4 separate regions of the Homo sapiens genome follow, and all the other regions are reported to be linked to region 3. The links are microRNA targets in miRTarBase. Many come from high-throughput screens and were not tested one by one. Region 3 holds a microRNA gene; each other region holds the end of a gene's coding sequence.

The links. Region 3 holds the annotated microRNA hsa-miR-29a-5p (ACUGAUUUCUUUUGGUGUUCAG, at 2,994-3,015, opposite strand). A microRNA usually pairs through its seed, bases 2 to 8, with sites in the 3' UTR of a target mRNA and lowers its output. Matches are read on the target gene's strand: a 7mer-m8 pairs with bases 2 to 8, a 7mer-A1 pairs with bases 2 to 7 and ends in A, and an 8mer does both.
Region 1: the mRNA of SLC38A7 is a reported target of hsa-miR-29a-5p. Seed matches in the 3' UTR shown: 7mer-A1 at 1,929-1,935.
Region 2: the mRNA of TMOD3 is a reported target of hsa-miR-29a-5p. Seed matches in the 3' UTR shown: 7mer-m8 at 2,591-2,597 and 7mer-m8 at 4,430-4,436.
Region 4: miRTarBase lists GPR82 as a target of hsa-miR-29a-5p. Seed matches in the 3' UTR shown: 7mer-m8 at 819-825 and 7mer-m8 at 1,521-1,527.

The regions. Positions count from the first base shown.
Region 1 is chr16:58,660,362-58,667,599 of GRCh38, reverse strand. It overlaps SLC38A7 (solute carrier family 38 member 7), which reads left to right. Exons shown (of 12, transcript NM_018231.3): 12 at 113-2,491. The coding sequence ends at 215. Among named protein-coding and RNA genes, the nearest start is that of SLC38A7, 21 kb to the left of the region's middle.
Region 2 is chr15:51,906,372-51,913,794 of GRCh38, forward strand. It overlaps TMOD3 (tropomodulin 3), which reads left to right. Exons shown (of 10, transcript NM_014547.5): 10 at 2,405-7,423. The coding sequence ends at 2,439. It also overlaps the pseudogene RNU6-90P. Among named protein-coding and RNA genes, the nearest start is that of LEO1, 62 kb to the right of the region's middle. RefSeq lists an enhancer at 1,987-2,156.
Region 3 is chr7:130,873,793-130,881,215 of GRCh38, forward strand. It overlaps MIR29A (microRNA 29a), which reads right to left and starts at 3,018; the gene lies at 2,955-3,018. It overlaps MIR29B1 (microRNA 29b-1), which reads right to left and starts at 3,747; the gene lies at 3,667-3,747. It overlaps LINC-PINT (long intergenic non-protein coding RNA, p53 induced transcript), which reads right to left. Exons shown (of 8, transcript NR_170176.1): 8 at 7,200-7,423. RefSeq lists an enhancer at 1,478-1,772 and a silencer at 1,568-1,767.
Region 4 is chrX:41,727,774-41,734,853 of GRCh38, forward strand. GPR82 (G protein-coupled receptor 82) reads left to right here. Exons shown (of 3, transcript NM_080817.5): 3 at 1-2,357. The coding sequence ends at 264. The region is part of intron 5 of CASK (calcium/calmodulin dependent serine protein kinase); the gene reads right to left. Among named protein-coding and RNA genes, the nearest start is that of GPR82, 7.1 kb to the left of the region's middle.

The DNA.
Region 1 (7,238 bases), not on the chromosome of region 3:
TCTACCAACAGGAGAAGTGCGATAATTACAGTAATTAACAGTTATATATATTGAAGTCTGCAGTCATGGGATGGGATGACTGATCAGACCTCTCTCACCCTCTGTTCTACAGCTGGTGGGTGCTGGTCAGCTACGGAGTCCTCTTGGTCACCCTGGGAGCCTTCATCTTCGGCCAGACCACAGCCAACGCCATCTTTGTGGATCTCTTGGCATAACCACTGCCTCCCAGGGAACACAAGGCCTTTGCCATTGGTCGCAGGAACCCATCTCTTAGAGCTATGGGGCCATTCTTAGTCCACGATCATTCCAACTGGTGGGATGACATCCGGACATCCTCTTCCAGGGACTGGGGCAAACTCAGGCCCCACACCTCTGGACAGCTCAAATCCAGTCCCCTTCCTGCTCCCCAGTCCTGGCAGTGCCGTGGATGGCGGCAGGAAGTCTCACATCATAGAGGACCCCTCCTCCTCTCCCAGTTCTCAACTTCTCCATGCCTGGAATCCACGGGTGAAGAGAGTCGGTAGATCTCATAAGAAAGAATCCAGTCTGACTTCCCTCTGGAGAATGACTATGGACAGAAGGCCACCATCCTCCACAGAGCACCCTGTCCTGAGTAGGGGTTGTGCTCATTACCCCAGGCCAGTGGTAGCTTCCTCAGGAGCCTGGCCACTTCCAACGGTAGCACTGAAGTCATGCAAATGCATAGTCAGGTAGATTCAGACCTTGTCCACACCTTCCTGGGCAACCCCCACCATGAACCTGTCAGCCTCTTTCCCATAGCTAATAGACATTTCCCAGGCCTTGAGGGGCCCCACCCTGTCTCTTTCATCAAACCTGATGGTCCAGGCTGGGCATCCCTCTCCTCCTCCATCCCCAGACATCACCAGGTCTAATGTTTACAAACGGTGCCAGCCCGGCTCTGAAGCCAAGGGCCGTCCCGTGCCACGGTGCTGTGAGTATTCCTCCGTTAGCTTTCCCCATAAGGTTGGGAGTATCTGCTTTTGTGTCTGAGATGGGCCCCTCTTTTCAGAGGCCGCAGGGTGGGTGATGGAGAAGGCTGAGAACCTTTCAGACCCTCTGTGTGGGCTGGGCTGGTCAGAATCAGGGTGTACCTCCCCGACACCTTCTTTTTCAGTGATGTTTTCTCTTCTTCCTGCCTTTCCTCTGCCTCCTCCCCTGCCAGCCCTAGCGTGACTACCCAGAGACAAAAAAAAAAAAAAAAAAAAAAGGCAGGGCTGGGCGCAGTGGCTCACGCCTGTAATCCCAGCACTTTGGGAGGCCAAGGCGGGCAGATGACTTGAGGTCAGGAGTTCGAGACCAGCCTGGCCAACACGGCAAAACCCCATCTCTACTAAAAATACAAAAAATTAACCGGGCATGGTGGCGGGCACCTGTAATCCCAGCTACTTGGGAGGCTGAGGCAGCAGAGCCGCTTAAACCCAGGAGGCAGAGACTGCAATGAGCTGAGATCGTGCCATTGCACTCCAGCTTGGGCAACAAGAGTGAAACTTCATCTCAAAAAAACAGAAACAAACAAAAAGGCAGCTGGGTTGTCACTGATGGGCAGCATTTGAGCCTGCCACACTGGCCTGGAAGTTTCCCTTCCAGTCTGGATTTTGTCTGCTCCTTCCTTCCCCCTCACCCCGTTACCTCTTCACCTCCCATCTCACTTCACTGTGTAGCTCAGTCTCTCCCACGCACATAATTGGGGACAGTGGGGGCTCTCTTACCAGCCTCCTCAGCAACGCACGTCCATCAGGCCTGGCCTCAGTGGCCAGCCACATTGATGTCACACTGGAATTGTTACCCCAGAGAGGGCGAAGAGATAGGCTATCTCCCCACCTCCCACCCTACTCCCCACTATATTCCCGTTTTGACCACCTCAGCCCCTCAGCTGCCCCCTCTCACTTTGGCCAATCCCAGGCACCAATCAGACTTCCTCCTCCACCTGGAGCCCCTAGCATTTCCTTGTCCCCTCTTCCCCAAAACCTCTGTAAAGGGTACGAGAGGGACCCCCTGCCGAGCCGCCCGCCACTCAGGGCAGTCCGATCTAAGAAGCAGAAGCTGGTTGGAGGCTGGCTGGGCCTCTGTCCAGTCCCCAGATGGATAAACTGCCTTTTCTCACATCCCCTCTTGGTGCCTGATCTTCTCTGCCCCCGGGGCCAGACCCACTGTGCTGTTTTCTGTCAGTCTGTGGCACAGCACCAAGCTCTGCCAGCACCAGTCCCTGACAGGGCTAGGAGGACAGCCTGGTCAGCAGGGCTGCAGTCCCCCAGTGCCGTGTTTCGGGGGTCAAGGGATGTAAGTGGAGTCATTGCACAGAGACAGACCAGTCAGGAGAAGGAGCTGGAATCTGGCCTCTTGTCCTAACCTCAGGAGCCCCCTCCCATCCTCTCCCCACCCTCCCTATCGGGGTACTTCACTGTTTCTTTTCTACTTGTGTATACTCGAGAAAGGGAAGATGGTTAATAAAAGGGATTTGTGCTGCTGAGCCGTGTCCCCTGTGTCTGATCCTGGGGACAGAGTCCAGGCCACTGCCAGGAGGAAGAAGGGCTGGGGTAGGAGGTGTAGATGGCATGTCACTGTCTCTGACCCCTATCTCCGGAATGGCACCGCCATGCTCCCTCTACCAAGCAGGGACCTGCAAGTGGCTCTTGCCACCCCTGCTTTCTTCCACATTCTACCTATCCTTCTCCAGTGACTTAGGAATGTATCGCAGTCTCCAATCCTGCGACCTCTGCCTTCACTTAAGCCCTCACTGTCTTTCCTGTGCCTTTGTGGTCTCAGACTGTCCCCCTGACTTCAGATCTTGGCAAGAGCTTTAAACTCCTGAGTATCCACCCCCATCTTTTCAGAGGCGAGCGTTGAGCAGGTCCCAGCTGTCTTGGTTATGGAGCCACCAGTCACCACGCTCAGTGCTGGCAAGAAAACCAGCAAAGGCCAGGTGTAGTGGCTCACGTCTGTAATCCCAGCACTTTGGGAGAACAGGGTGGGCAGATCACCTGAGGTCAGAAGTGCGAGACAAGTCTGGCCAACATGCTGAAACCCTGTCTCTACTAAAAATACAAAAATTAGCTGGGCATGGCGGCGCATGCCTGTAATCCTAGCTACTTGGGAGACTAAGACAGGATAATTGCTTGAACCCAGGAGGCAGAGGTTACAGTGAGCCGAGATCACGCCATTGCACTCCAGCCTGGGCAACAAGAGTGAAACTCTATCTTAAAAAAAAAAAAAAAAAAAAAAAAAACCAGCAAAACAGACTCCAGTACTGCTCTCAGCCTAGTTGTGGGAAGACTGATGCTAAGCAAGCAATGACACAAATATACACTTCCAAATTGTGGTTAAGTGCCAAGGAAGGAAAATACAGTGTGTTAGTCTGGGGGCTGGAAAGTTGTCTGGGGAGTCAAGGAAGACTTCCTGGAGGAAGTGATGTTTGAGCTGGCCTGTGACTGATGAGTAGGAATTAGTAAAGAGAGGTGGGGAGACTTTGCCAAGCAATGGAAACTGCATGTGCGAAGGCCTTGAGCTGGGAGGAACATGACTTCAGGAACTGAAAAGTGGCCAAGGTAGCCAGACATTGACTGTGTGTTGGGAGGTTCTTAAATGACTCCCTCTTGCCTTTAGGGTCAAGTCTAACCAACTCATCTCTCACCACACTTCCCCTCTCCGCTCCAGCCACACTCAAGTGAAGGTCAGGCTCCAACTCCTAGTAAAAGTGGGGGACTGACCCTGCAAGGAAGAAATACTTCAGAAAGGCTCGAAGGGTAGGGTGGCTTTGGGCTTTGGGCCTGACTAGGGAGCGAATAACGAGGTTGAGTTTAACCGTCTCTCAACAGAAGGAAGGAAAGGATGCGTCTACGCCACAGGCGTACTCCAGTGCAAACAGCCAAGTTCATCCATTCATACACTTCACTCAAGACATCCTCATCCTGGTGTGACGGGTGGATAATGAGAAATTACTTAATGGATACAATGTACATTATTTCAGTGATGGATACACTAAAATCCCAGACTTCACCATATGCAATATAGCCACGTAACAAAATGGTATGTGTACCCCTAAAATGTATACAATTTTTTTTTTTTTTGAGACAGAGTTTCCCTCTTGTCACCCATGCTGGAGTGGTCTTATTGCCCAGGCTGGAGTGCAATGGCGCAATCTCAGCTCACTGCAACCTCCACCTCCTGGGTTCAAGCGATTCTCCTACCTCAGCCTCCCAAATAGCTGGGATTACAGGCACCCACCACCATGCCCGGCTAATTTTTGTATTTTTAGTAGAGATGGGGTTTCACCATGTTGGTCAGGCTGGTCTCAAACTCCTGACTTCAGGTGATCCACCTGCCTCGGCCTCCCAAAATGCTGGGATTACACGTGTGAGCCACTGTGCCCAGCCTACAGATTTTTGAAAAAAGACATCCCCATCCTAATGTCCCAAATACTTGTAAGCACTTGGTTAATGTCCATCTCTCCCATTAGATTGTAAGCTCTATGAGAGCAGGCTTATGTCTTCTTTACCCACCAGGCGCCTCCACCGGTGCCTGGCACAAGCGCTCAGTAGTTACTGAAAGAATGAATGAATGAATAGCAGCGTTTGTTGAGTTCTTATATTGTGCTGACACTTTACTTGCACAATCGTGGTCTTTACATTTCTATGAAGAAGCAAAAGCTAAGAGAAGTTAAATATTTTGCCCATGGTCCCACAGGTTGTAAGACTGGAGGCAGACAGTGCTTTTAACTTGCATAAATAGACAAGTGAGCAGGCCAGGTGCAGTGGCTCAGGTCTGTAATTGCAGCGCTTTGGGAGGTGGATTGCATAAGGCCAGGAGTTCAAGGCCAGCCAACATAGTAAGACCCATCTCTGAAAAAAAAAATATGAAAAAAGCTGGGCACAGTGGCTCACACCTATAATCCCAGCACTTTGGGAGGCTGAGGCGGGCAGATCACTTGAGGTTAGAAGTTCAAGACCAGCCTGGCCAACATGGTGAAACCCTGTCTCTACTAAAAATACAAAAATTAGGCGTGGTGGTGGGCGCCTGTAATCGCAGCTACTCAGGAGACTAAGGCAGGAGAATCACTTGAACCGAGGAGGCAGAGAGGTTGCAGTGAGCCAAGATTGTGCTACTGCACTCCAGCTTCAGCAACAGCAAGACTCAGCCTCAAAAAAAACAAAAACATATATATATAGTGCTTACCTGTAGTCCTAGCTACTCAGGAGGCTGAGGCAGGAGAATCACTTGAACCTAGGAGTTTTAAGGTTACAGTGAGCTGTGATTGTGCCACTGCACTCCAGCCTGGATGACACTGCAAGATCCTGTCTCAAAAAACAAAAAAGAAAAGAAATGTACAAATTCAACTTCTTCCCAAGAGGCCCCATGTTGGGGTTTCCCTGCCACCTCCTGGGAGTCAGGGTGTTTCTAAGACGTTTTTTTTTTTTTCAGCTGGAGTCTCACTCTGTTGCCCAGGCTGGAGTGCAGTGGCGCGATCTTGGCTCACTGCAACCTCCGTCTCCGGGTTCAAGCAATTCTCCTGCCTCAGCCTCCTGAGTAGCTGGGACTACAGGCACACGCCACCACGCCCAGCTGATTTTTATATTTTTAGTAGAGACAGGGTTTCACCATGTTGGCCAGAATGATTTCGATCTCTTGACCTCGTGATCCGCCCACCTTGGGCTCCCAAAGTGCTGGGATTACAGGCGTGAGCCACCGCGGCCAGCCTGTTTCTAAGACTTTAACATGCATACAAGTGCACACAATTATCGCAAATCCCCTGGTGGCTCTCCTTGGGCTATAAATTCTGATTCACTAGGTCTGGAGTGGGGCCTGAGGTCTGCATCGCTAACAATCCCAAAGATGCCAACGCTCTGGTAATCCCTGAGCCACACTTTTGAGTGGCAGGTGCCTCGTGGACAGCGCGGAGTCGTTGGCATCAGACAGACCTGGCTTGAATCCTAGCGATGCCTCTTAATACTGTGAGAACTCAGGGAGTTACTTCACTTCCCTGAACTTCCATTTCCTCATCTATAAAGCGGGGTGATGATGCCCACTTTGTAGATGTAGACATTACAAATGCAAGGATGATGGCATAATAATACATGTCAAGTGCCTGGCCAACAGCAGTGACTATGTCAGTCATTTTGCAGAACTAGAAGGAACAGGGAATGTATAACGGCCGTTTCTTCCTTTGGTCAGTAGAGGTCACCTTTGCATAATCTCTGCTCATGAAAGTGGGAACCCTGTAGCTACAGAAGAGACTCCAGGCCTCTGAGTCACTGGAGCTCCTGGAGACTTGGCTGCTGCTTGGTCCATCTGAGTGACACCCGTATACTAAGGCAAGGCCACTCTCAGTCACAGCCCAGAGCCTGATGGGGGAATCAGACCAATTGAATAATCGCAGATGCTAACTGTATAGGTACATACACTAGATATAGATACAGATATTACAAACCCAGATTTGGTACTGAAATAATTTGGTAAGAATGTTAGGTATGATACAATTTAAAAAATGTCAGTAGATGTGGAGGAAGGCCAGAGACTTTGCAGACAGGAAGAAGGTAGACGTCCTGTCCTCCAAACTTGTCAAGTTTCCTAAGGGAAACAGACACAAGATTGATTCATTTGATCCTTCTCCCATTAAAAACAAAATTGGGGGCCGGGCGCAGTGGCTCACGCCTGTAATCCCAGCACTTTGGGAGGCCAAGGCGGATGGATCACGAGGTCAATAGATCGAGACCATCCTGGCCAACATGGTGAAACCCCATCTCTACTAAAAATACAAAAACTTAGCTGGGCGTGATGGCACATGCCTGTAGTCCCAGCTACTTGGGAGGCTGAGGCAGGAAAATCGCTTGAACCCGGGAGGCAGAGGTTGCAGTGAGCCAAGACTGCACCACTGCACTCCAGCCTGGGCGATAAAGTGAGACTCCGTCTCAAAAAAAAAAAAAAAAAAAAAAAAAAAAACAGAAAAAAAAACTGGGCTGGGCGCAGTGGCTCACACCTTTAATCCCAGCACTTTGAGAGGCCGAGATGGGCAGATCACTTGAGGCCTGGCCAACATGGCGAAACACTGTCTCTACTAAAAATACAAAATAAATTAGCCAGGCATGGTGGTGTGTGCCTGTAGTCCCAGCTACTCGGGAGGCTGAGGCAGGAAAATCGCTTGAACCTGGAAGGCGGAGGTTGCAGTGAGTCGAGACGGCACCACTGCACTCCAGCCTGGTCGAGTGTAAGATTCCATCTCC
Region 2 (7,423 bases), not on the chromosome of region 3:
ATCAGATCTTTGAGTTCTGATTTTGATAACATCGTTCCCTCTCTCATTGTTTTCTTAGTCTCAGCTATTCATTGAAATAATTCTACCTGCTCTCCATCTCTCCAGCTAAGAAGTGTCACAGCTGTAACAGCAAAGAGGTTCTATGGTATACATGCAATATTCTATTTACCTTTGAGTCTCACATTACTATCTTTACACTAGTTAACTGCATATTCCATTTTCTAGACCTTTTTTGTTTGCTGCACTCTGTCCTGTAGATCTTTTCTATAACATGCATTATAGCATCTGAAGTGGTATGCCAGTAACATCCAAACCCTGCTGCAATTCAAAATTTTCGTTGAAATGTTCTACCCTAAAGAATTATCTGGGCTGGGCGCAGTGGCTCACGCCTGTAATCCCAGCACTTTGGGAGGCTGAGGCAGGCGGATCACCTGAGGTCAGGAGTTCGAGACCAGCCTCAACATGGAGAAACCCCGTCTCTACTTTAAAAAGTACAAAATTAGCCAGGTGTGGTGTTGCATGCCTGTAATCCCAGCTACTCGGGAGGCTGAGGCAGGAGAATTGCTTGAACCTGGGTGGTAGAGGTTGCGGTGAGCCGAGATCGCGCCATTGCACTCCAGCCTGGGCAACAAGAGCGAAACTCCGTCTCAAAAAAAAAAAAAAAAAGAATTATCTGAAGTTTGCCTTTCAGACATTTCTATATTTTTCAGAGATCTATATACATGATTTGATATTTGAGGGCTCAAGTCTCCATTTAATTTTTTTTCTTAATACTTCAGTGAACACATGAAACTTGTCTTTGTTAGCATGGATTAAAATTAGAGTCGGTTGCTTGCTTTGACAGCACATACACTAAAATTGGAATGATACAGAGAAGATGAGCATGGCCCCTTGCAAGGATGACACAGACATTCATGAAGCAATCCCTATTTTTATTGAGTTCTGGCAAAAAATAAATAAAATAAACTTAAGAGTCAGGCGAACTTAATTAGATAGTTATAAAAATGTTCGTGGGAACCTGATACTTTAGTCCTTCTGGTTTTATTTTCAAGCAAGCACCCAGCCTATGGCTGAACAAGATTTTATATACGTCATCTGAACGTATGGTCTTATCTATTAAAGGCCGACAAACAGAAGTCAGCAGTCAGAAGAGCACAAGAGCAGAGTGTCTATGGCCTGGCCAGGACACCAGGTGTACCTGTTGGCTTCTAGTTCCTCTGTCAAACAGCCAATTTAGGCCAAAGTACACACTACAGAAGTGACAGAGCCATGATTCACTCTATTTGTCATCAACTCTGGAACCTGTGGTTTTTGTCCTCTCTAGGAGCCGGCCACAATGCTGATAGCCCTGAATTGGTGGCCCTCAGTGAATGCTCTCTAGTGGCTGATAGGTGAGAGCGCAGGTAGCAAGATCTGAAGTTGAAGACCTTGTTCTGCTACTAGAGAACACCCCTGAGTAGTTTGACATCACCAGTCCAGGAAGAGGCTGGTAGTCTCAGATACATACATGTACCGTTCTTTGCTGTAAAAGCTGAGCTAGTTGACTGGCCACTTAGGCAGCCAAAGTTTATGGTAGCCGGAAGTGACCACACCATATTACCAGGGTCTGAGATTTTCATTACTTTGCATTTGTTGTTTTATCAGACCCTGAACTGGTTTATATTACAGGAGACAAAAGAAGGAAAATTCAGAAAGCAGTAGCAAATCACTTACCTATAAAAATGACAAAAATGTTTTTGGTATATTCTTTTACAGCCTAAGGAAATACATTGTAGTGTCTAATCAGGAGAGCATGCAAATAGTTACTTTTAATATGTTCTAACCCCAGCTGCCTGAATGTCACTTCAAAATTTAACACACTAATTTATTAGCTGTTTTTTAAAACCTGAGTATGTACTTTTTCAGTAAACAAATGACTTGGGCTGGACGCAGTGGCTCACACCTGTAATCCCAGCACTTTGGGATGCTGAGGCGGGCAGATCACTTGAGCTCAGGAGTCCAAGACCAGCCTAGGCAAGATAGTGAGACCTAATGTCTGTTTTATTAATAAATTACAAAGTTAAAAATAAACAAAAACAAATGACTTGTAGATGATTGCTGACCATTCTGTTTTAGATTTCTAGTGCTGCTGCTGTGTAAGCACAGCTATGAGTCATTGAGCTTAGGGCATGTAATTCTTTTGTTGAAGCCCCTTGGTTCTCAACAAGTAAATGACAGTGGTGAATGATGGGAAGTAGGTTGTTTTTTTTTTTTTTTTAATTAGTGGTCATGTGAACTGGAAATGGACATTTCAATTTTGTAAAACTTATAACTGGATTATGCAGAAACTTGCTTGTTATAAGCAAGTTACCATTGTAAAAACTAATAGGGATTTCTAACATAGTTTCTTTTATTTTTCTCATAGTGCGTAAGAGACGAGTTGAAGGAGATCACCAGTAAGTCTGCAAAGGTGTAATCTTTGGAAGACTTCAGAAGATCACCAAGGGCTCATGTTGGTGACATCATGTAAAATTTTCCTGGGTAGAAGGGAAAAGACTGGAAAAATTTTTTTAGTGACATGCATTTTTTTTTTAGTTGTTATCAAATTGTAAAATCAGTAATGTGATATTTTATATTCTGAAACATTTCTACTTTCTGCTAAAATCAATTTTAATTTAGTTTAATTGAATGATTTATGATGAATCTTGGGCAAAAAAATACAACTGTAAAAAATTTCACAGGTCATTTGTGTAGAATAATTTGAACATTGTGAGGACCAATCTTTTTTAAATCAAAAGGGATGTTGCTGGTATCAGAATTGTTATTGCTTCATTTAGACATAAAACACTTAAGTGTTTTCTTCACTCCGTGACCTGGAGAGTTTTCCATTTTTTAAAATACATGAACTTGGCAAGGGTGTGATTTTTCTTTATCAAGAGAACAAAATGCCAGAATGTTAAAACAGTTAACTCAAAATCTAGTCATCTGTGTAGGAGCTAAAGCAGGTCTCCAGGGAGAGAGGGTGGTCGTCTGTGCATTCCAGGTTACTGCACTTGTCTGATGTGACGTAGCAACACCCAGGTCTTCTTAAAACAAAGTCATCAGCTTTGCCAGGTTACATACTTTATTTAAAAGTATAGTGAGGTCGAAGTTCATTCCAGTGTTTCATTTTAATAATGTGGGCATTATTAAATTTTTGTGGAAGCTAATAGTAAAAAATAAAAGCTGTTTTCACCACCTCCCTCCCCACCCCCCAAAAAAGGCGTACAGCCAACTCTTAGTTATTTAGGGTAAGAGAAAAAAGAAAACTGTTAAACAATGAAATCAAAGATAATAAATATGATAGATTTCCAGTATGAGGCACTTGCAAAACAGTCATTTAAACTGATGGTTACTGTAAGTCAGTTGGAAGCTGGCATGTATGTAAATTACTTGGTGTTACACCATATCCGAAGAAGTTCCTATGTGCAGTGCAGAATTGCATAAACAGTATTTAATCACTGCTACAAATCTTCCAACCAAGAAGGAAAACTGCTATTCTTCATAAATCTAATTTTTAGTATATGCTTCCTTTCATCTTATACTTTTATCAATATTTATAAAAGTCATTTCTATAATAAAAGCAGTCTTTCTTGCTCAAAGTATTAAGGTGAACAATTGAATAGAGTACTGTGGTCGGGAGACTGATTTGAGACTGCAGAGCTGATGCTGGGTAGAGGGTCTGGACTTGTATTCATGTTCTGTCTCAGGGCAGCCCCTGGAGCAGGAGATGGCAGAGGCATTTACAGCTGCAGAAAACAGGGAGGAATGGAATCTGAGGTAGCCCTGGCCTCAAAATTCAGGCCTGGCTGTATCATTTACAGAGATTTTTCTGGAGGGAAAAGTCTCATTTCTGAGGAAGGCAAGGTGGCTAATCATTATTAATTTTTTTTAAACTTTTTGGGCCGGGCGCAGTGGCTCACGCCTGTAATCCCAGCACTTTTGGGAAGCCAAAGTGGGTGGATCACTTAAGGTCAGGAGTTCAAGACCAGCCTGGCCAACATGGTGAAACCCTGTCTCTACTAAAAATCAAAAAAGTAGCCGGGTGTGGTGGTGCACACCTGTAATCCCAGCTACTCAGGAGGCTGAGGCAGGAGAATTGCTTGAACCTGGGAGATGGAGATTGCAGTGAGCTGAGATCGTACCACTGCACTGCAGTCTGGGTGACAAAGCAAGACTCTGTCTCAAAAAACAAACAAACAAACAAACTTTTTGAAATTGAATTGCAATATGTCTGCTACTTTGGCTTGGGCTGGACAGTTTATCTAATAAGCAAGGCAGCTTCTTGTGTGCTATGGTAATAAGCCTTCTTAACAGGCTAAGCTTCCCTCATAAGAACTGTGGTGTTTCTCTTTTTTTTTTTTTGTTTTGGTTTGTTTTGGTTTTTTGGTTTTGTTTTGTTTTGTTTTTTAAATCAGTATCCAATGTTTTATAGGGGCCAAAGGTTAACTTTGCACTATTCCCTGTCAGTTAAAGGCCACTGATATTTTTCTAAGTTAGCAAGGCTCACTTGCTTGCTTTCTTGCCTCCCTTGCCTCCATCCCTCTCCCTTCCTACCTTCTCTATTTACCTATTTCTCTCCCTCCCTCTCTTCTCCTCTCTTTTTTTTTCCCCGCATATGCAGCTTTTTGATTGTACTTGATTTTATAGAGACTGCACAGTTCCAGCAAGATTGGGAGTCAGGCATGGAGCAGGCATCTCAGGCTACCAGAAAGAATTGGTCACCTAGACTTTCAGTCAGGCATCCTCGTTTGCATTGTCCTGTAAGTCAATTAGTTGATAAATAGTTCCCCCTTCATCCCTTAAGTTTTGTTTTTGTTTTTGTTTTTAATATAGGTAAGTGGGACTCTACCTAAAATTTTGCATCATACTTATGGGTAATATCTTTTTCATATATTATTTATCAAAGTATGAAGTTGAGTATTTTGCTTGTACCATTTCAATTCTGCATTATAGTAGTTCATTGTATAACTGAAAGAAATGATTTCTTCATAAGTGACATTAAATATGAACATTCATCCAATTGAATTTACAAAATCTTTCCAAAATTATAAGGGAGAAAAATCGGGTTTACTTCAATCTTTAAAAATCTGGCACCTCTTAGTAACTTTCAGTATTTCTAAATTGCTCTAAAATTTTATAATAAATAGATTAGGGTTTTGCAATAGTCTTAATTTTTAAGCCAAAGGTTTTCTGAGACCTTAGGTTTTGTAGTCTAACCAGCTTATGTGGTTATTTAAAAGAATATTCTTTGTGTTTTTAAATTGCTATTTTTAAAAAAGCTTTTTATTACCCATTTTATAAAATGTTATACTCATATTTGTCTGAATTTTTCCAGTATTCCTACATGAAATTGTATGTATTAAAAACTCAATATTAGTGGCAAATATTAATACTATTAAAATGGATTTTGGTGCTATATTCTTGTAGCTAAAGCCTAGTAGAATTCTCAAGAATAGGTGAAATACACTTTCAAAGTTGCCTGTCATTTAAAAGACCAAATAAGCATTTTGTATTAAATAAATTAGCAGATGGTTAGAGACTTCAAGGAGAGTTAGCTTGGTCATTTAATTGCGACTTCATGTTATTTGATTGAAATAACCCACATCCTTGCTTTGTATAAGATATTCGCTCTGGAGAAGTTACATGTAAATAGAATTCTATAAATTGTTTTCCAGTTGACCGAGTATCTGTTGTGTTTTTGTTTAAAAAGAGGATTCCATGACATAATAAAAATTATTTTAAAAAATGTTTTGGGCCGGGTGCGGTGGCTCACGCCTGTAATCCTAGCACTTTGGGAGGCCGAGGTGGGCGGATCACCTGAGGTCAGGAGTTCGAGACCAGCCTGACCAACATGGAGAAACCCTGTCTCTACTAAAAATACAAAATTAGCCAGGCGTGGTGGCACACACCTGTGATCTCAGCTACTCGGGAGGCTGAGGCAGGAGAATCACTAGAACTCGGGAGGCGGAGGTTGCAGTTAGCTGAGGTCGCGCCATTGCACTCCAGCATGGGCAACAAGAGTGAAACTCCGTCTCAAAAAAAAAAAAATTTTTTTTTTTTTATAAAATGTTACTCATATCATATTGTACGTTATATTTAACTCTTGCTGTCATTAAAATAAGATGACAACATTTATGAAGTTTTATAAAATCTTACATTTTAGGGTCTGTGTTCCCAGGGCTGCCTCACTTTTTCCCTAAAAAACTAGGAACCACTGTTAACCTCCCAGCAGATGCAAGGATCATGCTTTCTCTGGAGTCCTTAGTCACTTCCATTCTTTGCAAGTTTAGTACTGCCCAAATTTACTCATTCTACAGTGTTACTGCACTTTGAACGTATTGACCCATGTCACCCAAGAGAAGCAAACATATGGATGCACTAGAGACAACTCGGGTTGCTGCTCTCAGTTAAGGGCTATGAGTTCTTGGGGTCTAAGTATCTGTAAAATTATCCTCTCCATCAGCTCTCACTGATCATTAATGTTTCTGGATATTTCTTACCCTAAGATTTGCTTACCAACAAATCAAAGAAACGCTTCACTAATTATTTTTAAATTGAGAAAATAGTATTCAGAGGCAAAGATTTTTATATTCTTTTTTGAGACCAAGTCTCACTCTGTCATCCAGGCTGGAGTGCAGTGGTGCGATCTCAGCTCACTGCAGCTTCCACCTCCCAGATTCAAGTGATTCTCCTGCCTCAGCCTCCCAAGTAGCTGGGATTACAGGCGTCCGCCACCACGCCCGGATAACTTTTTGTATTTTTAATAGAGACGGGGTTTCACCATGTTGGCCGGGCTGTTCTCAAAGTGACCTCAGGTGATCCACTCGCCTCGGCCTCCCAAAGTGCTGGGATTACAGGCTTGAGCCACCACACTCAGCCTTATTCTTATATTTTAATTTGGTCATTCTTAGATCTACAGATTGAACATCCCTAATTGAAAACTTTTTGAGTACTAACATAGTGTTCAAAGGAAATGCTTATTGGAGCATTTAGAATTTCAGATTTTCAGATTAGGGATGCTGAACTGGTGTAATGCCCAGTATTCCAAAATCCAAAATAATTTGAAATCTGAAACACTTAATGGTCCCAGCATGTTGGATAAGGGATACTCAACCTGTATTGATTTTTCTCCACTATAATTCAGTTCTATAAGTTCTTCCCTATAAAAAATGAATGAATTAGAAATTTGATAATAAAACATATTTTATTAATTTTAAACTCTATCTTGCAGTCTGATCATTCAGAAAGGTCAACCTAGAAAAAAGACATGGCTAAGTAAACTATTTTAAGCCATAACTAAGTATTTTGGAAAGCCTTCATTAACACATAAAGAATTTTGGCCAAGTACTGTGGCTTATGCCTGTAATCCTAGCACTTTGGAAAGCCGAGGCCGACGGATCAC
Region 3 (7,423 bases):
TATGAAAAGTAGAGGCTGCAGCCTAGAAGGAAGATTTGCCACAGACACCTACACAAAGGATAGCTCACGTGGAATGTAAGAATGGAGTGTACACAGTATGTCTTGTTCTTGTCTACCGTCCCTCCTAGGAGCAAGGATTTTCCAGCCTTGCAGAGAAGCCTAGTAGGTAATCAATCATGAGAATATAACATGCGAAGTGCCATCAGGCTCTGAAGGGGTACAGAGAAGAAAGCCTTTGCCCAGGGATCTAAGCCTTGATGCAGAAGGCAGAGGAAGGCTTCCTAGACAAGTTTACACCTGAGCCAGGGGCTGCAGGTTGGAGGTCCCTAGCTTACAGTCCCTAGGGGCTGGAGGTCCCTAGCTGACGAGGAGGAGGAGAGGGGAGATGTGGGCAGAGGAAATAGCACAGACACAGGCTAAGAAATGCCAAGATACCTGAGTGTTCTCAGCAGCAAGCAGCTGGGTGAGCACAGAACACAGGCCCCAGGAAGCACAGCCAGAAGATGGTGACACAGGTAGGCATGGGGTCATGAAGGGTCTGGTACCTGGTTGACACACTTATAAGAGTTCAGCTAAAAGTGAGGGACAAGGAGCAAGGTCATGTGGTTAAACAATTTTTATTTTTATTTTTTAAAGAGATGGGATCTTGGTCTGTCGTCCAGGCTGGAGTGCAGTGATGCAATCATGGCTCATTGCAGCCTCAACCTCTTGGGCTCAAGCAACCTCCTGCCCCAGCCTCCTGAGTAGCTGGGATTACAGGCACCAGCCACCGTGCCCAGCTCACGTATGTATTTTACAAAGATTAACTGGTGGCTATAACAAAGCTAGACTAATGGCGAGGGGTGGGCCCAGAAAGCTGTCTAGGAAGAGCAGAGAAAGGGATGGATCCTAAAGAGAGAATTGAGAGAGAACAGCAACAAGTTGTGCTGAGTATGGATGTGGGTAAGGGAGAGGGAAGAGGTCACAGACCTCTGGTGTTCGCAGCTTTCACCATGGGGCAGAGCAGGGAGAGCTGGCTTTGGGGAGAAGGCAATGTGGATGGCTTTGGTATATGCCTAGTGTTCCATTATTGGAATGCTAAGCATGTGGGAGTTGTCTCCTACTGCTCAAGGTCATTGCCAAGGTCTGATGGCAAAAATTCAAAAAATTGCAACCTCAAGCATAAATGGATTAAATTGAGACAAGTTTAGAAGAGCAGGCTGAACTATTATACTTAGGAGCTACTAAAAATATAAAAAGCAAGATGTCTCAAAAAATATCCCAGGCCAGACCTCTGGTTTGAGGGAAATCAACACATAGGGATGTATTTGGAACCAGGGGAGTAAATAAGATTACTTAGGGAAAACAGCGAATAGGTAAGAAAGCAAAAGACAAGAGTTTTGGGAAAATAATAACCATGGGATAGAAAAAGATGTGGTGGAATGATCCTGATTCTCGTTGGATTTGTGTGGTAGACAGAATGTTTTGGCTACAAATTGCATGTGTTAGCCCCGAGGAGAAAAGGCCTTTTCCAGACAAGTGACAGGCAGGAGGGAAAAGGAGGGAGGCAGTGTGAGAGGGCGGGAAAGCTTAAGCAGGGTAGATAGAATATTAACTCTTGATTGTGAGGCCAGTGGCTTTTCCAGGCCAGAAAGAAAACAGAAGGACAAGGCCCAAATTCCACCAGGTGCCCCTGCAGTTCTCCAGGACGCCACATGGGGACAGCAGGTGGCCGGTCTGTGCAGTACCTGTGTTGGGAGCTGCACACAGGGGCCCCTGGAGGAGGAGCGGCCGAGATGGCTCATTCTTGAGCCTTTTATTTTATTTTATTATTTTTATATTTTATTATTATACTTTAAGTTCTAGCATACATGTGCTTATACCCAAAGGATTATAAATCATGCTGCTATAAAGAGCCTTTTATTTTTGCCTCTTAGTGGACCTAAAAACTCAGTATTGTTTTTGGTCTAATGACTTCACTTCTAGTGAGGTTGTGTTAGTCCGTTTTGCGCTGCTATAAAGACATACCCGAGACTGGGTAATTTATATAGTAAAGAGGTTTATTTGGCTTACAGTTTTGCAGCCGTACAAGCATGGCACTGGTACCTGCTCGGCTCCTGATGAGGCCTCAGGATGTTTTATACATGGTGGAAGGCGGAGAGGGAGCAGACATGTCACATGGCGAGAGAGGGAGCAAGAAAGAAAGAGCAAGAGAGAGGAAGGAGGTGCCAGCTTTTTTAAACAACCGGCTCCCTCTAACTGAGCAGGAACTCGTTAAGTGAGGACATCACCAAGCCATTCACAAGGGATCCGCCCCATCACTCAACCACCCCCACCAGGCCCCACCCCCAATACTGGGGATCACACTTCAACATGAGATTGGAGGGGACAAACATCCAAACCATATCAAAGGTATACTCTAGGATCCTAGTTCAAGTAGCACCTGCTTTTGTTGCTTTGCCTTCTAAACTGAACTGACACATATTAGCACAGTTCTGTCTCAGCCATAGAAACCCAGTTTCTCTGGACCATTTTTCCTTATGTAAGAAAATGACCTGTTTAACCATGGAGGGAACTCCTCAGCCAGCTAAGAGAGGAGAGTTCAGAGATAGCTGGTGCAGCTTCTCATCAACAACAGAATTGACTCCCTCGCTGCTCCTTTCCCATCATCTAAGCCAGTCATCGATTTTCCCCAGGAGTGTTTCTAGGTATCCGTCACCAAAACAAAACCCCCACCAAGTCTATGGAATTTCTATAAAGTATAACCATTCATGATATGCTAATAGTGAACCATTTGTTAGTATTATACCACATGCAATTCAGGTCAGTGAAATTCAACTTAGAAACTGGAAGAAGAAAAATCACCTTTGCATTATTGCTTTGCATTTGTTTTCTTAGTTCTTGTCCATGGCCCCAACGGTCACCAATACATTTCCTCTCAGCAGTCAGCATCATGGTGCTCTTCCCCAATCATTATAACCGATTTCAGATGGTGCTAGAAAATTATATTGACTCTGAACACCAAAAGAAATCAGTCATCCTCTAAGGGGTCACAGAAGGTCGTGAGGGTTGGGAGGGCCCAAATCTTACTAAATCCAGCATACATTGGGCTCTTTAACCCAGGCACAATGGAATGAGTCTGTACTATCTATTAAGTGCTATAGGTTTATTCCACAAAGAAGTATAAAATTCCAACAATGCGATATCCTGTACAATTACATTCATCCCTTGGTATCCTTGAGGGATTGGTTCCAGAAAGCCCCTTGGATACCAAAATCCACAGATGCTCAAGTCTCTGATAGAAAATGGTGTAGTATTTGCATACAACCTACACACATCCTCCCGTATACTTTAAATCGTCTCTAGATTACTTAGAATACTTAATGCAATGCAAATGTATGCAAATAATTGTTATGCAGTATTGTTAGAGAATAATGACAAGAAGAAAGTCTGTTCATGTTCAATACAGACACAACTTATTTTTGGAAAACTTTCGATCACAGTTGGATCCGCCAGTGCAGAGACCTGACTGCCATTTGTGATATATGCCACCACTGTTGGCAGGGGTGAGGAAGGGGTCAGCTACATGTGAGGCAGGTTCTCACAGCCATCCTGCTGTTGCTTTCAAATACTTCAGAGCTGTCCCATTCACTTCTTTTGCTGTTGGTAGTGCAGCGCAGCTGGTCTCCCCCAAGAACACTGATTTCAAATGGTGCTAGACAATCACTATTTAAATCTAAACCACCATATGAAACCAGCTTCCTGAAGAAGCTTTATGATCTATTTTTTTCTTCATAATGCTCTCTTACAATAAACCCAAGACAACCTAGAAAGGAAAAGTTGAAACCTAGCTGTGAGTTACTCAGTGGTCTAAACAGAGCTTTGGCAAATTTCATATATTCATAAACTGATGTCACTGAATTTGTTATTGATGGGAGAGCATGCCTGGGACTCCCTTATTCTTAAGTTAAGTTGCCCAGACAAAGGTTCAGCTTCATCATTTAGAGGCAAGGGCACATGTCAGCCCCGTCACTCTTGGGTGGGAAGACAAGGAAAATCCTTTGCTTGGGTAAAGGCAGGAGAAGTCAGAGGCATCCTGTGATCAAGTACCCAGGCAGGCGGAGGACGACTAGCAGTGGTGCTGGAGAACCGTCCGTCGGACATGCAAATAGGACAAAGCAAGCAAGTGCTCCATAGAAGTTGAAGAAAAACGCTTTCCTAAACCTATTATTTTCACTTGGAGATAACTTGGATCCAAAGGATTACTGAGATTTTGGGGTCTAGGGAAGAAAATAGACTAGCTCAGAGGCCAAGTAAGTCACATAATGGCACTAATGAGATGCTAATGTCGCTTCCGGAATGAATTCCTTAGACTGCATCTATGAGTTAGGGGTTTTTGTGAGCTTTACTTAAGACTCTCCTTCCCTCTACTCCAAAGGTAAGGCTTTGTACTCTGAGTTCTCCTTGGCAAATTATTTTTTGCAGCAGTTCTTTTTCGCCGTCATGGTATAGTTCTTGGTATCATCTTATTAGGTGGCCTGTTGTCGTCCCTTTTTGTGTTCTAGGCATCCAAAAAGATACTTCATGTACCCAGGCCACCTAATTAAAGGGGTGTGCACTGTTTTTATAAACTGTTATAAAAAATTTTATACATTAAATTGGAATGACAATACAATGAATTCCTAAATCCATACTATCTAAATTCAATAACTATTCCTTTTTATCATGTTTTGCTTTAATTATATGTAATATAGATACATATTTTTTGCTGCATTGTTTGAAAGTAAATTGATAACCACCCATACATACACTGCTCCTAACTACTTTGAGGTCGTTCTATAAAATGAAGACACTCTTCTACATAACCACAAAATCTTACCATACCTAAGAAAACAAACAATTCCTTGGTACCCACAAATATCCAGCCTACATCCAACTTCTCCCACTTTCTCCAAACAAAAGGTTTTTTATAGGTTTTTCAAACCCAGATCGCATCAAGGTTGATTCACTAAGACTCTTTGGTCTCTTTTAGCCTCAAAACACTACCCAACCTTTTCTTTGGCTTGTTTTATCATGACATACCACCTTGTGAAAACCAGGCTCCAATCCTGGCTGTACCATTCACTTAGTCTGTTCCCTTGGCTTGTATTTAAGAACTGAACTTTAGTTTCTCCGTCTGACTTTCCTCATATATCATCCTCATTTTACAATCTCACTATGTGTATTAGAAGAACATCCAATTACCACGTGCCTGTGGTTGATGATTCCAAGTGGGTTCAGTGCTAATCAGTCAGGAGGTGCACTGCAGGCTGTTTACCTTGGGTCTGATTAGCATAACATTCTTGTTCCTCATGGGCTTGGCCAGTTATCTTTTCATAAGGAGATCCCAGCACAAACTCATCCTTTATCATCATGGAGAAGCATCCACAGCACATACCTATTGCTGCTAGGCTGGTTTTTAAAAAAAATCTCTGTGAATAAGGGAATAGAACACCAGGGCTATGGAGATGCGTGGCAATCATTTCATCAAAGATGTAAACAGCTTGTTGACTGCAGTGAAAGGCACATACTTTGTGAAGTGACAGGCAGTGACACATTTCAAGTGGATAGTAAATTTAAGCACCAAAACTGGGAAAAGTGCCAGGACAGAAGAATCACTGCAACTCTCAAATAATGGTTTCACTAATTCTGTGATTCCTTTAGGGACCCCCTGCATCCTTCTGTATATGCTACTCTAATTCGCAGTATCAGTGACTGAAGTACAAAAGAAGCAGCCAGATTATTCTCATCAGTTACAAAACTCTAAAGTCTGCTTATTTTTGATAAATAACTAGTCACAGTGTTTGCCTACTGCCTAGAAGTTTTTTCAAATGATTGACACTTCAGTTATGGGGAAAATTTTTCCTGAAGAATGAATTTCTTTTACTTATGTCTGATAAGATCATATATATCTCATACACCAAATACATCACACACACTATATATTCAACCATGCCCTTAGCAGGGCCAAACAAATATGCTAAGTTTTTTACATTGTCTTTATGTATGCTTCTCAAAAATTCAGCAGAAGGCTAAGCGTGGTGGCTCATACCTGTAATCCCAGCATTTTGGGAGGCTGAGGCAGGCAGATCACTTGAGGTCAGAAGTTTGAGACCAACCTGGCCAACATGGTGAAACCCCATATCTACTAAAAAAATACAAAAAAAAAAAACCAAACTAGCCAGGCGTGGTGGCACATGCCTGTAGTGAGGCTGAGGCCGAGGCAGGAGAGTTGCTTGAGCCCAGTAGGCGGAGGTTGCACTGAGCTGAGATCGTGCCATTGCACTCCAGCCTGGGTGACAGAGCAAGCCTCTGTTTCAAAAAAATTAGCCGGGTATGGGATGCCTGCAATCCCAGCTACTCAGGAGGCTGAGGCAGGAGAATCACTTGAACCTGGGAGGCAGAGGTTGCAGTGAGCCAAGATCATGCCACTGCACTCCAGCCTGGGCAATACAGCCAGACTCCATCTCAAAAAAAAAAAAAAAAAAAAAAAAAAAAGGCCAGGCACGGTGGCTCACGCCTGTAATCCCAGCACTTTGGGAGGCCAAGGCAGGTGTATCACGAGGTCAGGAGTTCAAGACTAGCCTGGCCAAGAAGGTGAAACCCTCTCTCTACTAATTAATAATACAAAAATTAGCTGGGCGGGAGGCTGAGGCAGGAGAATTGCCTGAACCCGGGTGGCAGAGGTTGCAGTGAGCCAAGATCGCGCCACTGGATTCCAGCCTGGGCAAAAGAGTGAGACTGTCTCCGAAAAAAAAAAAAAAAAAAAAAATCAGAAGAATAAAGGTATGATACATTATTTTGCATCTGTGGGCTCTTCATATTAGCCCAGTGTGACAAGGTCATTTGGTATATCTTCCCACATTGCTTTTATGTCCTTGGGGAGAAAGTGGGGTACTGAGTTGGCAAGTAGTGACCACGCCAGGTACTCCTGTGTGGCAACAGCTGAGTAGTGGCAGTCGATTGTTTTCTGTGACATGAAAAGCCAGCAAACTGGCTTAAGGTCACTTCCCCTGGGGTTTGAGGATTTCACAAGGAGAGCTCTATCTGAGCAGGACATTTCTTTAAGAACGTAGCTTTGAAATGTTCGAGACATCAGGACAAAACAGTCCCAACCTGAGTATTGAGGCTGGACTACAGATGCAACTGTTACGCAACAGAACACACTGTGATAAGACATCTTGAGTTGGGTCCTTGTTTTCACATAAAGCAAGAGGCTAGTTTCCTGAAAATAAGTCTCCATGAAGAGACTGGCTACCCAGTTAACGGCAAAAAACCCCCATGGCTCACTAGTAAAGAGATGGAAGAAAACCAGTTGATAAATTAAAAAGGGCTCATTCATTCTCTTTCCAGGGCATGCATAGGAGAACAGAGTGAGACAAGTGGGATCTGCTTATTTTGTTGA
Region 4 (7,080 bases), not on the chromosome of region 3:
CATCTTTTGGTCATCCAGATTCTACTAATAGTTTGCTTCCTTCCTTATAGTATTTTTAAACCCATTTTTTATGTTCTACACCAAAGAGATAACTGTCAGCAATTGAATTATTTAATAGAAACAAAAAACATTCTCACCTGTCTTGCTTCGGCCAGAAGTAGCACAGACCCCATTATATTTCTTTTATTAGATAAAACATTCAAGAAGACACTATATAATCTCTTTACAAAGTCTAATTCAGCACATATGCAATCATATGGTTGACTTTTGAATGGAAAACCCCACAATATTAAGAAAAGCATTCATGTGACTTTATTAGGGACACTAAACTACATCATTAACATGTCACAGCTTGGTTGACAATAATCACCAAGAAAATCTCTTTGGTTTTTAAAAATAAATAAACATATATTCATAAAACTCAAAAAACAGTTATACTGAACGTTGAGATGGCAGAAACTTTCAGAAGCAAAAATTAAGCATATTGAAAGGATCCCACTCATATGAAACTAACAGGCTGTTTTCTGTTTAAACTCAACTGTCAGTGCTTCTGTTCAGAACACGTTATTTCATGACTAGGATAAAGAAGCAAATGGTTTATGACTTGTCTGCTTTCTGGTAGTTAGAATACAAGGGTCAATCTATGGCTAGTGTTTATTGGTAATTTTAAAATCTTTAAAAATAAGTAGCTGGGCACAGTGGCTTACGCCTGTAATCCCAGCACTTTGGGAGGCTGAGGTGGGTGGATCATTTTGAGGTCAGGAGTTCAAGACCAGCCTGGGCAACATGGTGAAACCCTGTCTCTACTAAAAATACAAAAATCAGCTGGACATGGTGGTGGGCGCCTGTAATCCCAGCTACTCGGGAGGCTGAGGCAGGAGAATCGCTTGAGCCCGGGACGGAGGTTGCAGTGAGCGGAGATCGTGCCACTGCACTACAGCCTGGGAGGCAGAGCGAGACTCTGTCTCATAAAACAAAACAAAAAAATAAAAATAAGTAAAAAAATAAATAAGAAATATCCTCATTCACATCTTACCTAAATGCATGAATAATACAGTGAAAAAAATCCAAGGTTTTATAAACATATTATTTATTTGAAATTATCTGGCTCATGTTATTGGGGAGAAGCAATATTCATTGACTATATTTTTAAAGCAGATGATACTTATAAAAATGCTTAAATATTTGGATTAGGCTTTGTCAAAGTAAAAAGCTATGTCATTATATGCCCATCTTCATCACATTGTGCATATTTTCTTCTGTATTCAATATAAATAATGTTATTAGTGACAAACAGTACCTGGCAGTTAATTTTTTGTGAAATAAATGAATGAATAATAAGGGAGTGTAATAGTATTGCAGTTAAGAGATTGATCTCTGAAGTTATACTTCTTGGGTTCAATCTGGCTCTACTTTTTATTTAGCTGGACAATCTTAGGCAAATTAACTTATCCTCTGTACGTGTTAATTTCTTCATTTGTAGAGCAGAAAATACTATCTTATTTACAGATCCTATTATTAAATCAGCTGTTACTATTATGAGTAGCTAACGCTTAGTAAGCACTTGCTGTTTGCCAAGCATTCTACTTATATGCTTTACATATATTATTTTAATCACCACAACTCTAAAGTATACTAATTTACTGATGAAAATATTGAAGTGGGCTGGGTGCGGTGGCTCATGCCTGTAATCCCAGCACTCTGGGAGGCCGAGGTGGGCAGATCACCTGAGGTCAGGAGTTCGAGACTAGCCTGGCCAACATGGCGAAACCCACCTCTACTAAAAATACAAAAATTAGCTGGGCGTGGTGGTGTGTGCCTGTAGTCCCAGCTACTTGGGAGGCTGAGGCAGAAGAATCACTTGAACTCGGGAGGCTGAGGCAGGAGAATCACTTGAACTCAGGAGGCGGAGGTTGCAGTGAGCCAAGATCATGCCATTGCACTCCAGCCTGGGCGACAGAGTGAGACTCTGTCTCAAAAAAAAAAAAAAAAAAAAAAAAAAAAAAAAATATATATATATATATATATATATATGTATGTATGTATGTATATGTGCATAGTTAAGTAAATCACCCCAATTTTTTCTAATATTTAAGTGAACATTTAAAGATAAGCATTTCTTAATGTTAATTTCTTTTCTTTCATGTAATCTTGTCAGTAGACAAATGATGGTGACTATATTCTGTAATAAGTACATATATTATGATTAAAAAAAAAAGCGTGTACTATCTGCCCAAAGAGATCATAAGCACTTTGGAGCTATAAACTTCTTGTCTATTTCTACTTCCATGGTACTGATATTCTCTTCTCAGATAACCAAACAAAAACAGCTGAATAAAATCAACCATTAATAGTAACTTGCCACTTTGTTAGAGACTGCTTAAAGACTCCTTTTTTTCTTCACATAGTAATTACTTCAGTGTCCAAAATGAAGTTTAAAGTAAGTTCACGTAATCCTTCCAAGGCTTTAATCTCATAGCATGTTTTGTTCCTGAGTTAGAGCTGTAAAAGCAATTCACAGTACATTGCCCAAGAGCCATGTGTTCAAAAATCACCAGAGGTTATTCCGGGGGCAAAACAAACAAACAAAAAACCACACACACACACACACAAAAACCCAGTAAATTTTTTTTTCCTTTTCTACTTTGATGCTTAACTGAGACATGAAAATGTTCTGAGAAAAGTCTGAACACATTCTGGCTTCAAATATTTACAGTGAGTATCAATTCGTTTATAGTAGTAATTGGATTTTTGGCTCATTAATGTGCAGAGACAAAGGAGATTTGGGAACTTGAGGTGACCGCCCTGAATGCTAGCTGTAAATGGAAGTGTCCAATCTAGTGATTTCTAGACATGTAAATCATAGAGTAACTCAAAGTCCATCAGGGAGAGTTCCTGAGATGCACAGATTTCTCCACAGTTACAAAAGTAGTTTTATTCTTTTTATGAGATGGGGTCTCACTCTGTCACCCAAGCTGGAGTGCAGTGGCGTGATCTGGCTCACTGCAACCTCCACCCCCCCGGGGTCAAGTGATTCTCCTACCTCAGCCTTCTGAATAGCTGGGACCACAGGTGCCCACCATCATGCCCGGCTAATTTTTGTTATTTTTTTGTAGAGACGGGGTTTCGCCATGTTACCCAGGTTGGTCTCGAATTCCTGAGCTCAAATAATCTGCCCATCTTGGCCTCCCAAAGTGTTGGGATTACAGGGGCAAGCCATTGTGCCCAGACTAAGTAGTTTTATTCTTACATGAGTTTTGAGACCAAAACTCATCCGACTAAGACAGTAATGTTTGTTTAACATAAGCTATACTGCATGTAATAATCTCACTGGACTTAGGAGTTTTAAAAAAATACAACTTCCAGTCAGGTACAGTGGCTCATGCCTGTAATCCCAGCACTTCAGGGGGCTGAAGTGGGGGGATCACTTGAGCCCAGGAGTTTGAGACCAGCCTGATCAACATAGTGAGACCACGTCTCTACAAAAAATAGAAAAATTAGCTGGACATGGTGGCACATGTCTCTAGTCCTAGCTACTTGGGAGGCTGAGGTGGGAGGATCTGTTGAGCCCAGGAGGTTGAGGCTGAAGTGAGCCATGATTGCACCACTGCATTCCTGCCTGGGTGACAAAGCGAGACCCTGTCTCAAAAACAAAAACAAAAAACCCAAAAAATACAACTTCTAAAAATAATTATTTAAAAAACAATCACTTTACAGCTCTACCACTACTTTAAACAAAAAATATTTCTAGAGATTCTTACATTTAAAAAGGCAGGAAAAGAGATATGCAATTTCTCTTTAAGTTACTCATTCTGATAAACTCACATTTTAATTTCCTATACTGAAGAATGAACTATATACTCAGCTCATTATCATCATGGATATCTTTACACCATAGATGCTTTCCTAAACAGTTGATTTTAAATCATGTTGAATTTTTTTATGTAATTGAAGAACTGGCTATTTAATGGCATAGTAAATATTTTACTTAAAATATCACTTCTGTTTTTGGAGACAGGGTCTGTCTCTGTCGTCCAGGCTGGAGTACAGTGGTGATCATAGCTCACTGCAGCTTCAAACTCTTGGGCTCAGGTGATCTCACCACCTCAGCCTCCTGAGTAGCTAGGACTACAGGTGTGTGCCATCATGCCTGGCTAATTTTTGTATTTTTTTTTTTTTTTTTGTAGAGATGTGCTCTTGCTATGTTGCCCAGGCTGGTCTTGAACTCCTGGGCTCAAGCGATCCTCCCGCTTCAGCCTCCCAAAGTTTTGAGATTATAGGTGCAAGCCACTGTGCCTGGTTTTAAAATCACCTTCAAAACTTACCCTATTTTAAAGTTTGGATTTCAAAAAAACAGTGTTTTTAATGTGTCTGTGTGAGTTACAGTCAAACACAAATTTGGGGTTTCAGGAATCTCAAATTTTGACTCAAAGGCCAACAAGATTTTATCTTAAACTGTAGAAAACAGGCATACACATACTCTCATTAAGGCAGCTTTCAAACTATAATCAGGAACACAAACCATTAAGACTAGACAAAATTTAGGATAAACAACTTAACAGGGAAGTAAGTTTCTACTCCCTGGATAGAAGAGGAAGATGGCCCATTCTGTTCAATTTGCTGAGGACTCTAGGCCTATCACTGGCCTTGTGCTCTGTCAGGGTGGGAGTTACGGGCAAATCTGGGAAGACAAGGTGAAAGGAAATCCTGCCGGCAAACCACAAAGGGAGAACAGAGGGAACACTGGTAATCTGCTAAGCATAAGCATTTCAATCCAGCAGCCTAATGCCACAAACCTTCCTCTGATGGCCCCTACACTCAAATGGAATTGATAACACTGGGAAGAGTTACTACAGCTATAGTTGCACCTGACAGAAAAACCTCTGGCTATATCACACACGCTACTCCTGGCTCAGAAGGAGAGGAACAGTAAAAGGATTCACTTCTAATAAGCAAAAGAATTTTTTTTTTTTTTGAGATGGAGTCTCACTCTGTTGCCCACGCTGGAGTGCAGTGATACAATCACAGCTCATTACAGCTTCAACCTCCTGGGCTCAAGCAATCCTCCTGCCTCAGCCTCTCCAGTAGCTAGGACCACAGGTGTGTGCCAACACACCTGGCTAATTTTTATTTTTTGATAGAGATAGGGTCTTACTGGCCAGGCGTGGTGGCTCACAAGGTCAGGAGTTCGAGATCAGCCTGGCCAACATGGTGAAACCCTGTCTCTACTAAAAAATATATATATAAAAAAAATTAGCTGAGCGTAGTGGCAGGCGCCTGTAATCTCAGCTACTCAGGAGGCTGAGGCAGGAGAATTGCTTGAACGTGGGAGGTGGAGGTTGCAGTGAGCTGAGACCGTGCCACTGCACTCCAACCTGGGCAACAGAGCGAGATTCCATCTCAAAAAAAAAAAAAAAAAAGGAGAGAGAGAGATAGGGTCTTACTATGTTGCTCAGGCTGAGAAACTTAAAACCAAGGAGTTGATTTCTTTTTTTGTAGGAGTAGGCTGGGCAAAGAGAAGTATAGCAGTTAGAAACACAAGATAAATTTATAATAATCATGTAATCCATGAGATCTTCCTAAGTACAATTATTAAAATGCCACATTAAAACTGAACGTGCACATTATGTTAAAAAATCTTATAAAAGAAATGCAGAAGATTAACCAATGTTAATATAATAATAAAGAATAGTGGCTGGGCACGGTGGCTCACGCCTGTAATCCCAGCACTTTGGGAGGCTGAGGCGGGCAGATCATGAGGTCAGGAGATCGAAACCATCCTGGCTAACACAGTGAAACCCCGTCTCTACTAAAAATACAAAAAAATTAGCCGGGCATGGTGGCGGGCACCTGTAGTCCCAGCTACTCGGGAGGCTGAGGCAGGAGAATGGCGTGGACCTGGGAGGTTGAGCTTGCAGTGAGCTGAGATGGCGCCACTGCACTCCAGCCTGGGCGACAGAGTGAGACTCTGTCTCAAAAAAAATAAATAAATAAATAAAATAAATAAAGAATAAATACGTTTTTGTTTTATGAGAATTTAAATTTCTCTATACAACATGATAAACTTTGGGGAGTTGTGGTATCAGGTGTAAAAGAAACATCAGTAACGGAGAACAAGAGACTACGGAATGCTTTAAGAAATCCACAATGTCATGCCAACCAGTGTTATATGATAAACACAAATTTATCATAAAGTCTGGCCTTAAATAGGTAAAAGGAGAACTGAGACCAGAAGGGAACCAAAAAGCAGCCAGGCGTGTTCACACAGGTTAGCAAGGAAAACCATTTAAAGGAAGCACACTCAGAAACACTCTGGCCTCTGGCTGAGTGTGTGTGTGACTGGGGTTTGCACAGTTCTAAGAACTAAAAACAGCACCCAGACCTTCTGGGCACAGGCACCATTCAGAATAGAAAGTGATTGTGGGTAGCAATTTGCATTCTCAGAGAAACTGTTTCACTTCAACTTCAGTTATTAGAATTATACATGAGTAGGTCAGAGTGACAGAAAGGTCTAAAACTAAGTCTCCCCACAACCTCATGATCTAAGGCTGCCTGCAAGAGTTAGGAGAGAGGAGAAAATTCCACAAACTCTCAGTGCTTAGTAGAGCCCATGAAAGAAGGCAAAGAGCCAGGAGTTGCATTTACCTTGACAACTGTGCTATTTCTTTCTAAAGTACTTTTAATTTAGGGGTGAGAGGAAGAAAAAAAAATACCAGAAACATAATGAAAGTTTTCACATTCTTTCACAAGAAAAAGTAGAATTAAAGGGAAGAAGATGACAGAAAAAAATAGAAATTTATATGCATGCCTTAATTAATACCTGTAGGGAGGCAAATCTTGAGAATTATAACAGTCTATTATGACAGTGGGCCTTAACCAGGGACAATTTTTGTGCCCCAGGGGACATTTAGCAATGTTTGGAGACATTTTTGGTTGTCACAACTAGGGGGAGATGCTACTGGCATCTAGTGGGTGAAGGATGCTTAGCAGCATCCTACAATTCCCAGGACAGCCTCCCACAGCAAAGAATATAGCCTGATATGTCACTAAGTGTGGCTGTGGGGAGGCCCAGCACTATGT